Linked DNA regions of Homo sapiens. The protein of the gene in region 2 interacts with the protein of the main gene of each other region in a pairwise test. Each region holds a gene or a part of one and is shown on either strand. Other genes may lie near its edges.

Region 1 (7,518 bases), on a different chromosome or scaffold from region 2:
TTCTCGTGAGCCTTGCAAATACTATCTTCTTATAACCCACTATTTTATGTTAGTAATTACTTAACACTGATTACATAAACAAAGAAAACTAATAAGAGCTCTACACCTTAACTTCCTCCCCTTGCTTCTAAACTCTTTGTTGTTTCTCCTTATATTTTATTGTGCTGTCTATGTCTTGACAAGTTGTCGTAGTTATTATTTTTGATTGGTTCATCATTTAGTCTTTCTACTTAAGATAAGAGTAGTTTACACACCACAGTTACAGTGTTATAACATTCGGTGTTTTTCTGTGTACTTACGATTACCAGGGAGTTTTATATCTTCAGATGATTTCTTATTGCTTGTTAACATCCTTTTCTTTCAGATTGAATAACTCCTTGTAGCATTTCTTGTAGGACAGGTCTGGTGTTGATGAAATCCCTCTGCTTTTGTTTGTCTGAGAAAGTCTTTATTTCTCCTTCATGTTTGAAGAATATTTTTGCTGTATATATTATTCTAGGGTAAAAGTTTTTTCCCTCCAGCAGCTTAAGTATGTCACGCCACTCTCTCCTGGGCTGTCAGGTTTCCACTGAATAGTCTGCTGCCAGATGTATTGCAGCTCCATTGTTTGTTAATTCTTTCTTTTCTTTTGCTGCTTTTAGGATCCTTTATCCTAGACCTCTGGGAATTTGATTATTGCATGCCTTGGAGTAGTCATCTTTGGGTTTATCTGCTAGGTGTTCTATACAATTCTTGTATTTGGATATTGATACTTTTCTATAGGTTTGAGTGGTTCTCTGATATTATCCCTTTGAATAATCTTTCTACCCCATCTCTTTCTCGACCTTGTCTTTAAGGCCAGTAACTCTTAGATTTGCTTTTTTAGGTAATTTTCTAGATCTTGTAGGCATGCTTCATTATTTTTTATTCTTTTTTCTTTGTCTTCTCTGACTGTATTTTCTAATAGCCTGTCTTTAAAAGTGCACTATTTCTTCTCCTTAATCAATTCTGCTATTGAAAGACTCTGATGCATTCTTCAGTATGTCAGTTGCATTTTTAAACTTGAGAATTTCTGCTTGATTCTTTAAAATTATTTCAATATCTCTATTAAATTTATCTGATAGAATTCTGAATTCTTTTTCTGTGTTATCTTAATTTTCTCTGAGTTTCTTCAAGATATTGATTTTGAATTCTCTGTCTGAAACATCACATATCTCTATTTCTCCAGGGTTGTTCCCTGGGGACTTATTTAGTTTGTTTGGTGAGGTCATGTTTTCCTGGGTGGTCTGGAAGCTTTTGGATATTCATTGGTGTCTGGGCATTGAAGACCACCCCAAGAGCCTGCTTAGTACTCTACCTCCCTGTGGCTGAGCTGGTACCTAAGGGGAAGGAAAACATCCTCTTTACTTTTCCTTCTGCTTTTGTCAAGCAGAAGGAGTCTCTCACATTAGCCACCACAGTTGGGAATATACTGGGTCTCACCTGAAACCAGCAGATCTCAGAGTCACACCCAAGAACCACAGTGTACTACCTGAGTATTGCTTCTGGCTATTGAGAACCCAAGGGCTCTTTAGCCAACAGGTGATGGGTCCTGCCCAGACTGTTTCTTTCCCTTCAAGGCAGCAGTTTCCCTTCTGGCCCAGGATGTGTCTAGAAATGTTATCCACAAGTTAGGACCTGGGATGGGGGTCTGATGACTCAGACTGATGCCCTGTCCTACTGTGGCTAAACTGATATTCAAGATAACAAAGTCCTCTTTACTCTTCCCCCTCTTCTCTTCAAGCAGAAGGAATGGGTCTCTTCGTGCTGTTTTTAATCACTCCAGCCACTAGCATTGGGACTGATGCAGACACTAAGGATCCAAATGATTATTTTTGTTTTGTTTTTTTAACTGCATTGGGATTAGGCAACAGAAGGGTCTAATGTGGCTGAGAGTTTTTGAGAGAGGAGCATTTTTAGGAGGGTAGCTGCATTCCAAGTAGAGAGCTCTGCTGGGGTAAAAGAGGCATGAGTGCTAGAAAAGGGCATGCAGTGATGAAGAGCCACTAACAGCACTACCTGGGGTTGGGGTAGGGGTGTCACAAGCACTCCCTTAGCTCCCCTGTCTGGTGTCTCAGTAAGTCGCATGCCCTCCAAGTCTACTGGCTCTGAGCTCAGCATTTGGGCTTGCTTAGGAGTTGCTGTCCTTGTGGCCTAGGCTGCCTTTAAGGTTATTTGGGGCCCCAGAGCACTTTACTGAAACTCAAGTTTTCACCACTGGTATGGGCTATTTCCTCTGAGGGAAATTGGCTGAGTTCAGCCTAGTTTTGCTTTCTGCTATGACAGAGCAGTACTGAGTTCAATTCAAAGTCTCCCAATCACTGCACTCTCCCTTTCCCAAGCCACAAGGCTGCTGCTGCTGGGGGATGGAGGACTGGCGGCATTGGCAAATCAAAACTGTCTTTCCTGGCTTCTTCAGTGCCTCTTTCAGTAATATGAAATTAAAACCAGGTATTGTGGTTACTCACCTGATTTTTGGTTCTTATAAAGGTGCTTTTTGTGTGTGTAGATAGCAGTTAAATTGTGTTCCTAGCCGGGGTGGGGGGTGGGTGGTCAAACCTTCTATTTGACCATCTTGCTTCACCCCTTTCTACTGATACTATTGTTGTTGATATTATTAGGAATGAAAATGAGCCCTGTGAGTTATAATTGTCTTCATTTTGCAGACCAGGAAACTGAGGCTCAGAGAAATATTAAGCAGCCAAAGTCACAGCGATTAAAAGAGGCGGGACCAAACTTTGACGGAGATCAGGACCCACTCCTTTGAGAAATCACCTCTTTTGCTAGCTCCAGCCTAAAAGTGCTATCTAGGAGAAGGTTTATGGGACCCCAGCAGATGTTCAACCAGAAACTTCTGACCTGCAGGGGCTGCAGAGGGGAAATCTGCCCTGATTAGAAGAGATTTGTTTTCCACCCATATTAGTTTGATCTCACATTGCTATAAAGAACTACCTGAGACTGGGTTTCAGAGGCTGTACCGTAGGCATGGCCAGAGAGGCTTCAGGAAACTTACAATTATGGTGGAAGAAGGGAAAGCAAGCACATCTTCACATGGCAGAAGGAGAGACAGAGCGAGCAAAGGGGAAGTGCCACACACTTTTAAATCATCAGATATCCTGAGAACTCACTCACTATCATGAGAACAGCAAGGGAGAAATCCGCCCTCATAATCCAATCACCTCCCACTAGGTCCCTCTCCCAGTGAATTATAATTCAATATGAGATTTGGATGGGGACACAGAGCCAAACCATCTAACCTTGCCATGTCCTACTGTACTTTTTGGAAGTTTTCTGAACTAACATTTCTTGTCTAGAAATATACACACTCAAGATCAATCTAACTATTAAAAACAAAAAATGCTTATTTTCCAGTACCTGTTTTATGTTAGATTCTGGGGTAAAAAGAAAAAGGTACTGACTTAATGTTCCTGTCTATCATTCATTTGTAGCTTGTGCATCCATCCTTTCATCTGTCTATCCATATCACAAACATGTATTAAACACCTGCTGTATGCTAGACACCATCCTGAAGGTGCATTTCTTCCCTAAGTCTTTTTTTTGCCTGCCGGAGAGTACAGTATTCTCAATTCAAGATAAGAAGTGGTGAATAAGAGTGAAGTGCAAATTGGTGAGGACACTTAGACACCGAGTGATTACTTCTGACAGGTTTCCACCACTCAGCTAAGTAGCAAGGTGAAGACTCCGAGGTTGAGTTGTAACTCACAGAGCGGGAAGACCAATAGGCAGTGAGAAAAGAAGTTGCAGTGGCTTCACGTTATAGCAGATGCCTGTGTGTACACATGGGAGCGAATATGGCTTTATGCTGTTTTTCAACCGCTTCAGCCACTAGCATTGGTACTGCTGCACACTAAGGATCCAAATGATTGTTTTTTTGTTTTTTGTTTTGTTTTGTTTTGTTTTGTTTTGTTTTAAATTGCATTGGGATTAGGCAACAGAAGGGTCTAATGCGGCCGGGATGAGACAGGAGAGTTTTTAGGAGGGTAGCTGCATTCTAAGTAAGGGACTCTGCGGGGGGAAAAGAGGCGCAAGCGTTGCAAGAAGGGAGTGCAGGGGGTTGAGCAGGCACCTCTACAGGAAATGGATGCTGTCCAGGTGCTGGTGGGCGCCCCAGGGCTACGTGGCGAAGCAGCTCAGCCGGTCCAATCAGAGTGCGTCCAGGGCTCGGGTTTCGCGATCTTTAAGTGACTGAGGCAGATCCCCACGCGGCACCTGGCCATGCTCTCAGCTCTCCCGCCGCGGTGAGTATGTTTAAGGAATCCTTTCCATTACGGCGGCCCCATACCTAGGTCCCCGTCCGGGACAGAGGAAGCCGCAACGGGTCCCCCCGGGCACCCGGGCCTTTCTCCTGCCTCCCGCCACGTCCGAGGGTCCGGCCGCAGCGCCGCCTGAGCCCCTCCGCGGCCGGCAGTGGGAGGCGGGCTCTCCGAAAGCCGTCGCGGTGGTCCCAGAAGCCGGGTCATAAATAATTCACGAGCCAGGGTCTGGCGAGCTAAGGGAAGGGCGGCGGCAGCGGTGACTAGGGCGGGAGCAGGAGCGGGAGCCGGGTGCACGGTGAGTAGCTGGGTCCTCATCCCGGAGCGAGAGAGGCATCTGCTGACCAGGCGCGGGGCTGAGCGCACTCCTTCCACTGTACTGGGGGTGTACAGTGAGGAGTGGACGGGTTCGCTCTGCGCCCCCCTTACCCTAGCCATCTGCGCCGCCTCCCTGGCCCCTCAGCAGGTGGTGCGGGCCCGGACAGCGGCTGGGGGCCAGAGGAACTGCGGGGAGAGCGTGGTGGTGCCGGTGCCCGTCCAACCCAAACTTTTTAGTCTGAGTGGTGGCCCGCGACGCCCCGCTTGGGTCTTCTTTCCATCCACTGGGGATGGGGGCGGGGGTGGGGGTAGCCGGCGGCCGTGGTTCCGGAGCGGGAGTCGGAGGTGAGTGTGCGAACTGGACCGGGGCCCCAGAGACTTCGGACTCGCTCTCGGGGAGAACGGTGACCGAGGTGAGACTCGCCAGGGTCTTGGGAACGAGTCTGCGGTAAAGGAAACTCTAGGGATGGCCCCGGGGACGTGAGGCGCTGAGCTTCCCTGGCTGAGTGCGGAAATGGGCCAACACTGTGCAGCCGACCACAGCGGGAGTAGGGATATGGGGGTACAAAGCGAGGCCATCTCCCCGCGTCCGTGGGAGAAAGCATGCACCCCTGGCTTGAAGCACCTTCCCAGCCTCTCGCTCCACGGCCCTTCTGCTTGCATGCGCGGGGACCCGCGGCTATCGCTAGATGGAGAACTGGGGTGCTCAAGGCGCACCCTGCCAGAACACGCCGACCGGACAACAAAGAGGAGCGTGGACAGACCAGGAGCTTCACGGCTGTAGAAAGTCAGAGGCTCGGGATCAGTTTCCCCGAAAGCCCGTGTCTGGAGGGGCAGGGAGTCGGATCGGAGGGAGGAACTAGCTCCAGAACCCCTTCTCTCTGGCAAGATCGCCCCCGATCGGTGCCCAACAGGGGCCGCGGCGGGGAACTGGCGCCGACGCGCTCAGAGCAGCCAAGTTACTCCGGCAACCCCCTCCCCTGCGCGGCTGCGAATTCCTGGAGTCTCTTGGCTTCCCGCGCCCGCCCCGCCGCTCATTCTTTTGTGTCCCGCAGCTCGCGAGAGGCTTCCGCCCAGAAGGGAGCTAGGCCTGGAGGGGGCTTGGCCTGGAGGTGGTTTGGAGGTAAAGGGCGGGGAAGCCGGCGCCCCAGGCTTCATTCTGCAACAGGTTGCTCCTGGAGCCCGCTAAGGCGACTGACCTTTCTGGAGAAAGGTTTGCTGGAGTTCCTGAGGGCGGCAGCTGTTCTTTGTTAAGAAAGCAAGTGCACGATCGTAGTTCTTGAGTGCCCCCCGAGACTCATGCGACACGAACAACCGCTGCGATATGTTGGGTTGAATCATAAGAAATTGTCGGTTTTTTGGATGGAAGATGTGAATATCGTCAACCTCATATGATTCAACTTGTGTGATGTTACTCATTTTTCTTTTCTCACCGTCCTTTCTGTCCCGGTTATCCTAGGAGCCCCGGTGGAGTTGAGCTCAGAGTATTGATGCTAGCAGAAGCAGACAGACCCCAGATAGCCTTCCAGCTGCGTGCCAGGTGCTTTACCTATTAGATCGCTAGCCTGCGAACCCTATGCGAAATCCTCCTTTGACAGAGGAGCAGAAGAAGGGTTGGAGAATTCAAACAACTGTCATCTTGGCAGAGTTAGTAAGGGGGACCAGAGCCCCCTTACTGTTGCTGTTGTCTGTCTATTCAGCAGTGCCCTTTAGTTTATTCTTGTTTTTTTTTTCATGTGTTCCATAATTTTTTTCTAAACTTCCTTCTGATTTCTAAACTTTTCTAAACTTCTTTCTGATTTCTAAACTTCCTTCTGATTTTTATACGAGACAGTTTCTTTGTGTTTTAGTACAATGAGGTGAACAAATGCATCAGAGGACAAGCTGAAAACTTTAAACCAAGTTGGTACTGTTTAAAATATAAAGGAAATAGGTTTTTCAGGGAGCAAAGAGCTATTTCTGAGATTTGTTAAGGGTCAAGATACTTTGTTAAAACAGTGGAAGCTGAGTCGGGGGTAATTTTTATCAGATAAAGGACTTCTTGGATTCTGTAAGTTGCCTGTTCACTCTGATGGTAGTTTCTTTTGCTCTGCAGAAGCTCTTTAGTTTAATTAGATCCCATTTGTCAATTTTGGCTTTTGTTGCCATTGCTTTTGGTGTTTTAGACATGAAGTCCTTGCCCATGCCTATGTCCTGAATGGTATTGCCTAGGTTTTCTTCTAGGGTTTTTATGGTTTTAGGTCTAACATTTAAGTTTTTAATCCATCTTGAATTAATTTTTGTATAAGGTGTAAGGAAGGGATCCAGTTTCAGCTTTCTACATATGGCTAGCCAGGTTTCCCAGCACCGTTTGTTGGGAATTGAACAATGAAAACACTTGGACACAGGAAGGGGAACATCACACACCGGGGCCTGTTGTCAGGTGGCGGGAGTGGGGAGGGATAGCATTAGGACATATACCTAATGTAAATGACGAGTTAATAGGTGCAGCACACCGACATGGCACATGTATACACATGTAACAAACATGCACATTGTGCACATGTACCCTAGAACTTAAAGTATAATAAAAAAATATATATACATATACATATATATATGTATATGTATATATATAAAAGGACTTCTTGAAAGGATGGTCCCTGGGTGGCTTAGGTAAGTGGCAGCAAGGCTGGCTAGCCAGGCTTAGGAATCTAGGACATGCCACAGGACCCCTGATGGGTGGGTGGCTGCGGCTGCCAGAACAGGACCCTGGATGTGGCTACTGGCATTGCTGCCATCATTGCTGGAATGAATTAGATACTGTCCTGCTTCAGAGTGCGCAGGCCCAGGCCCAGAAGAAAGCTTCTGATTGGCCCAGCATGGCTCAGCTCCACCAGGACACAGTTTGGGCGCCTCAGCTGACCTC
Region 2 (3,910 bases):
GTTTGTTTATTTTTGTTAGTTTGTTTTTGAGACAGTCTCGCTCTATCACACAGGCTGGAGTGCAGTGGCGTGATCTCGGCTCACTGCAACCTCTGCCTCCCAGGTTCAAGCGATTCTCCTGCCCCAGCCTCCCAAGTAGCTGGGATTACAATTAGCTACTGCCACCACGCCCAGCTACTTTTTGTATTTTTTGGTAGAAGGTTTTTACTATGTTGGCCAGGCTGGTCTCAAACTTCTGACCTCAAGTGATCCGTCTGCCTTGGCCTCCCAAAGTGCTGGGATTACAGGCGTGAGCCACTGAGCCCAGCCAAGTGGGGCATGAGTTTTCTCATAAAGCCAGCAGGGCAGAGTGATTCCTAGTATAGCAGGGCATGTGTTACACTCATGTCACTTTTAGCAAATCCACGTTGCCTTTTCAGCAAAATTCATTACAGAGTTAAGAAAAACATGCCCTGGTAATTTTCTGTTAGAAGGAGCAAAGATTTTGAGTCCACCACAGTGCACATCATGTCAGCATCATTGCTTTTTGTGTCTTTCTAGTTGGTGGACCAACTGGGTGATCCCTGCCATCTCTGCAGTGGCCGTCGCCTTGATGTATCGCCTATACATGGCAGAGGACTGAACACCTCCTCAGAAGTCAGCGCAGGAAGAGCCTGCTTTGGACACGGGAGAAAAGAAGCCATTGCTAACTACTTCAACTGACAGAAACCTTCACTTGAAAACAATGATTTTAATATATCTCTTTCTTTTTCTTCCGACATTAGAAACAAAACAAAAAGAACTGTCCTTTCTGCGCTCAAATTTTTCGAGTGTGCCTTTTTATTCATCTACTTTATTTTGATGTTTCCTTAATGTGTAATTTACTTATTATAAGCATGATCTTTTAAAAATATATTTGGCTTTTAAAGTATGCACCGTGTTTGCCTGTTTGGTGTATAATTGTCTTTAATGTTTAGAATCTGGTTATTTAGAGGATTCCTTCAATGTGTTACTCATCCAGACCCACAGAGGCCATATGACTGGAGGTGCGGGAAATAGGTTTGAGTGTCTCCTTTCACATCGTCACATCTCATTGAGTAACCATGTATTGTATGCTTCCGATATAGTTTCTTTTTTTCAAGGAAATTAAGAAAGGCCAGAAATTATAGTTTAAGGATTTCTAATAATTGTCCTACTTGAAATAGATCTTAAAAAGAAAGTAGCGGCTGGGCATCGTGGCTCACACCTGTAAGCCCAGCACTTTGGGAGGCTGAGGTGGGTGGATCACTTGAGGTCAGGAGTTCAAGACCAGCCTGACCAACATGGTGAAACCCTGTCTCTACTAAAAATACAAAATTAGCAGGGCGTAGTGGCGCATGCCTGTAATCCCGGCTACTTGGGAGGCTGAGGCAGGAGAATTGCTTGAACCCAGGAGGCAGAGGTTGTAGTGAGCTGAGATCGCGCCGTTGAACTCCAGCTGGGCAACAAGAGTGAAACTCTGTCTCAAAAAAAAAAGAAAGTAGCCTACAGGGCCTATAAGAGAGACTTCTTATCTTCACTGATTGAAAAACATCAGCAACTTAAAAACACATGAACCATGAGAGGGCATCGCAACTGTCCATTCTCTCAGCTTACACGTATCATTGCAAAGGCACTCACAGCTTCATAGGTTCTAAAGTTTTAAGAATTCCTCATTCAGAGAGTAGAATTGTTTGTAAACTCTTCTAAGGAAAGGCTGGTTTTCTAATTTGTAAGGAGATTGTGGGACATTGGAATCTGATCTTTGAAGAAATTTAGCGGCTAGTGTCAAGCTCTGAAGAGTTCTGGTGTGGCTCTGTCTCCTCCTGGGGGCTCTAAGGGGCTGATTCAGTCATCTTACTTCCCATTTATTATTCTCTGCCTTATGTGTTATTCTTTTAAATGTGGAAACTTGAAAGCTGAATTTGTTAGAACCCAGTACATGTGTCATTGGCTGTGACTGCATTTGCACTGGCATGAGCTGACAAACCACGAGGTTCTTCAGAAGTGACCGCGTGCAGTGGAAAGGAATTGTGTTGTTCTTACAGAGTACAACCTTTATAATCAAATAGGATGCACCGCCTTTGCCTTCTTTAGTCACTGAAAGTTGACAAGTAGTTTCTATTTCAAAATAAATTACAACACTTGTTAAGGGACCTATGTAAATATTTCAATATTTTTGGTTGTGATTTTTAGCTATAAAGCTTCACATTTTAGTAGTTTTTAAAACATTGCTCCTAAATCAACTATGAAGTGAATCGAAGTGGGTCAGTCGTACCTTAGATGACATTAAAGGGTTAACTTGTAAATCATTTTTAAGATGTTGAGTAATAGCATCTGTATATCGTTAAGAAACATAACAGTTGAACTTTGACATTTTTATCAGTGACTCAGCAATTTGCTGCTGTGGCTGGCAATGTTTCTTCATGTGTTTTGGGAACAACATGTGGAGTAAAGGAGAGTTTACTTCCTAATTTTAACATTTACAGTTTGTGCAGCCAGACTCTCAAGGAAAGATATTTGACACTTTTTTCTCTATTGCTTTCCCTTCAGAGAGGTGAGAGACTTCAGAGGCTGCCCTTTCTTTTCATCTGCTGCTTGTGAAAGGAAAACATCTTGGGCCCCCAGAATCACTAAGGAAAACTCAAGCTGGAAACTGCTTAGGGCCAACCTGCCTCCCATTCTACTCAGTCAAGCCTCTGCTCACTGAGAGAGAGGCATATCTGATTGCTTCCTTTGGAAAGGCTAATCAGAAACTCAGAAGAATGCAACCCTTTGTGTCTCACCTCTCTGTGACCTGGAAGCTCCCTCCTGCTTTGAGTCTTCCTGCCTTTGCTTCAAGGTGTCCCGCCTTTCCAAACAGAACCAATGTACTTCTTACATATATTGATCAATGTCTCATGTCTCCCTAAAATGCATAAAACCAAGCTGTGCCCTGACCACCTTGGGTACATGTCATTAGGACCTCCTGATGCTTTGTCACGGGCATGTCCTCAACCTTGGCAAAGTAAACTTTCTTTTTTTTTTTTTTTTGTTTTTGAGACAGAGTCTCACTCTGTCGCCCAGGCTGGAGTGCAGTGGTATGATCTTGGCTCACTGCAACCTCCGACTCCCAGGTTCAAGTGATTCTCCTGCCCCAGCCTCCTGAGTAGCTGGGACTACAGGCGTATGCCACCATGCCTAGCTAATTTTTTTGTATTTTTAGTAGAGACGGGATTTCACCATGTTAGCCAGGCTGGTCTTGAACTCCTGACCTCAGGCAATCCACCCGCCTCAGGCTCGCAAAGTGCTGGAATTACAGGCATGAGCCACTGTGCCGGGCCTATTCCTTGACTTTCTTAATAAAGTTGTTTTCACTTTGCACTGCGGACTTGCCCTGAATTCTTTCATGTGCGAGGTCCAAGAACCCTCTCCTGGGGTCTGGATTGGGACCCCTTTCCTGTAACACAGGGACTGTATTGGGTGCACGTGTGTCAGTTGCTCACCTCCTGGGTTTGAGTTGATGATTAGGGCTCTGGTTGGAACAGGCATCTCCCTTCCTCTGGAGGTGTCTAGATGAAGGCAAGTGGAAGTTCTGGAAGCAGATTCTCCTTTGCAGCGTAGCCTTTCTGAGAGGTGTGCAGACACAGATGGCGTCCGGATCCTCAGCTTCTACCTAGATTGTGGGAGTTTCCCTAGGCTGCTGTAACCAAGTACACCACAACTGGGTGGCTTAGAACGACAGAAATGTGTTCTCATAATTTAGAGGCCAGACGTTGTAAATGAAGGTTTCAGCTGGGCCACTCGCCCTCCGACACTCTGGGTGGAATCCTTCCTCACCTCTTCCAGCTGCCACTGGTGGCCAGCAGTCCTCACCTGGCGGTCCTCACCTGACAGTCCTCACCTGGCGGTCCTCACCTGACAGTCCTCACCT

Evidence for each region.
Region 1: the proteins of CYB5A (region 2) and PROM1 interact in a protein complementation assay, tested with the Homo sapiens proteins (one study listed by IntAct).

Annotation. Positions count from the first base shown.
Region 1 is NC_000004.12:16,080,737-16,088,254, reverse strand, and holds the start of PROM1 (prominin-1 isoform 1 precursor), read left to right. Parts: upstream 1-4,231; 5' UTR 4,232-4,277; intron 4,278-4,525; exon of another isoform or gene 4,526-6,150; intron 6,151-7,518. UniProt on the Homo sapiens protein: May play a role in cell differentiation, proliferation and apoptosis. Binds cholesterol in cholesterol-containing plasma membrane microdomains and may play a role in the organization of the apical plasma membrane in epithelial cells.
Region 2 is NC_000018.10:74,250,296-74,254,205, reverse strand, and holds the end of CYB5A (cytochrome b5), read left to right. Parts: intron 1-540; coding exon 541-622; 3' UTR 623-3,360; downstream 3,361-3,910.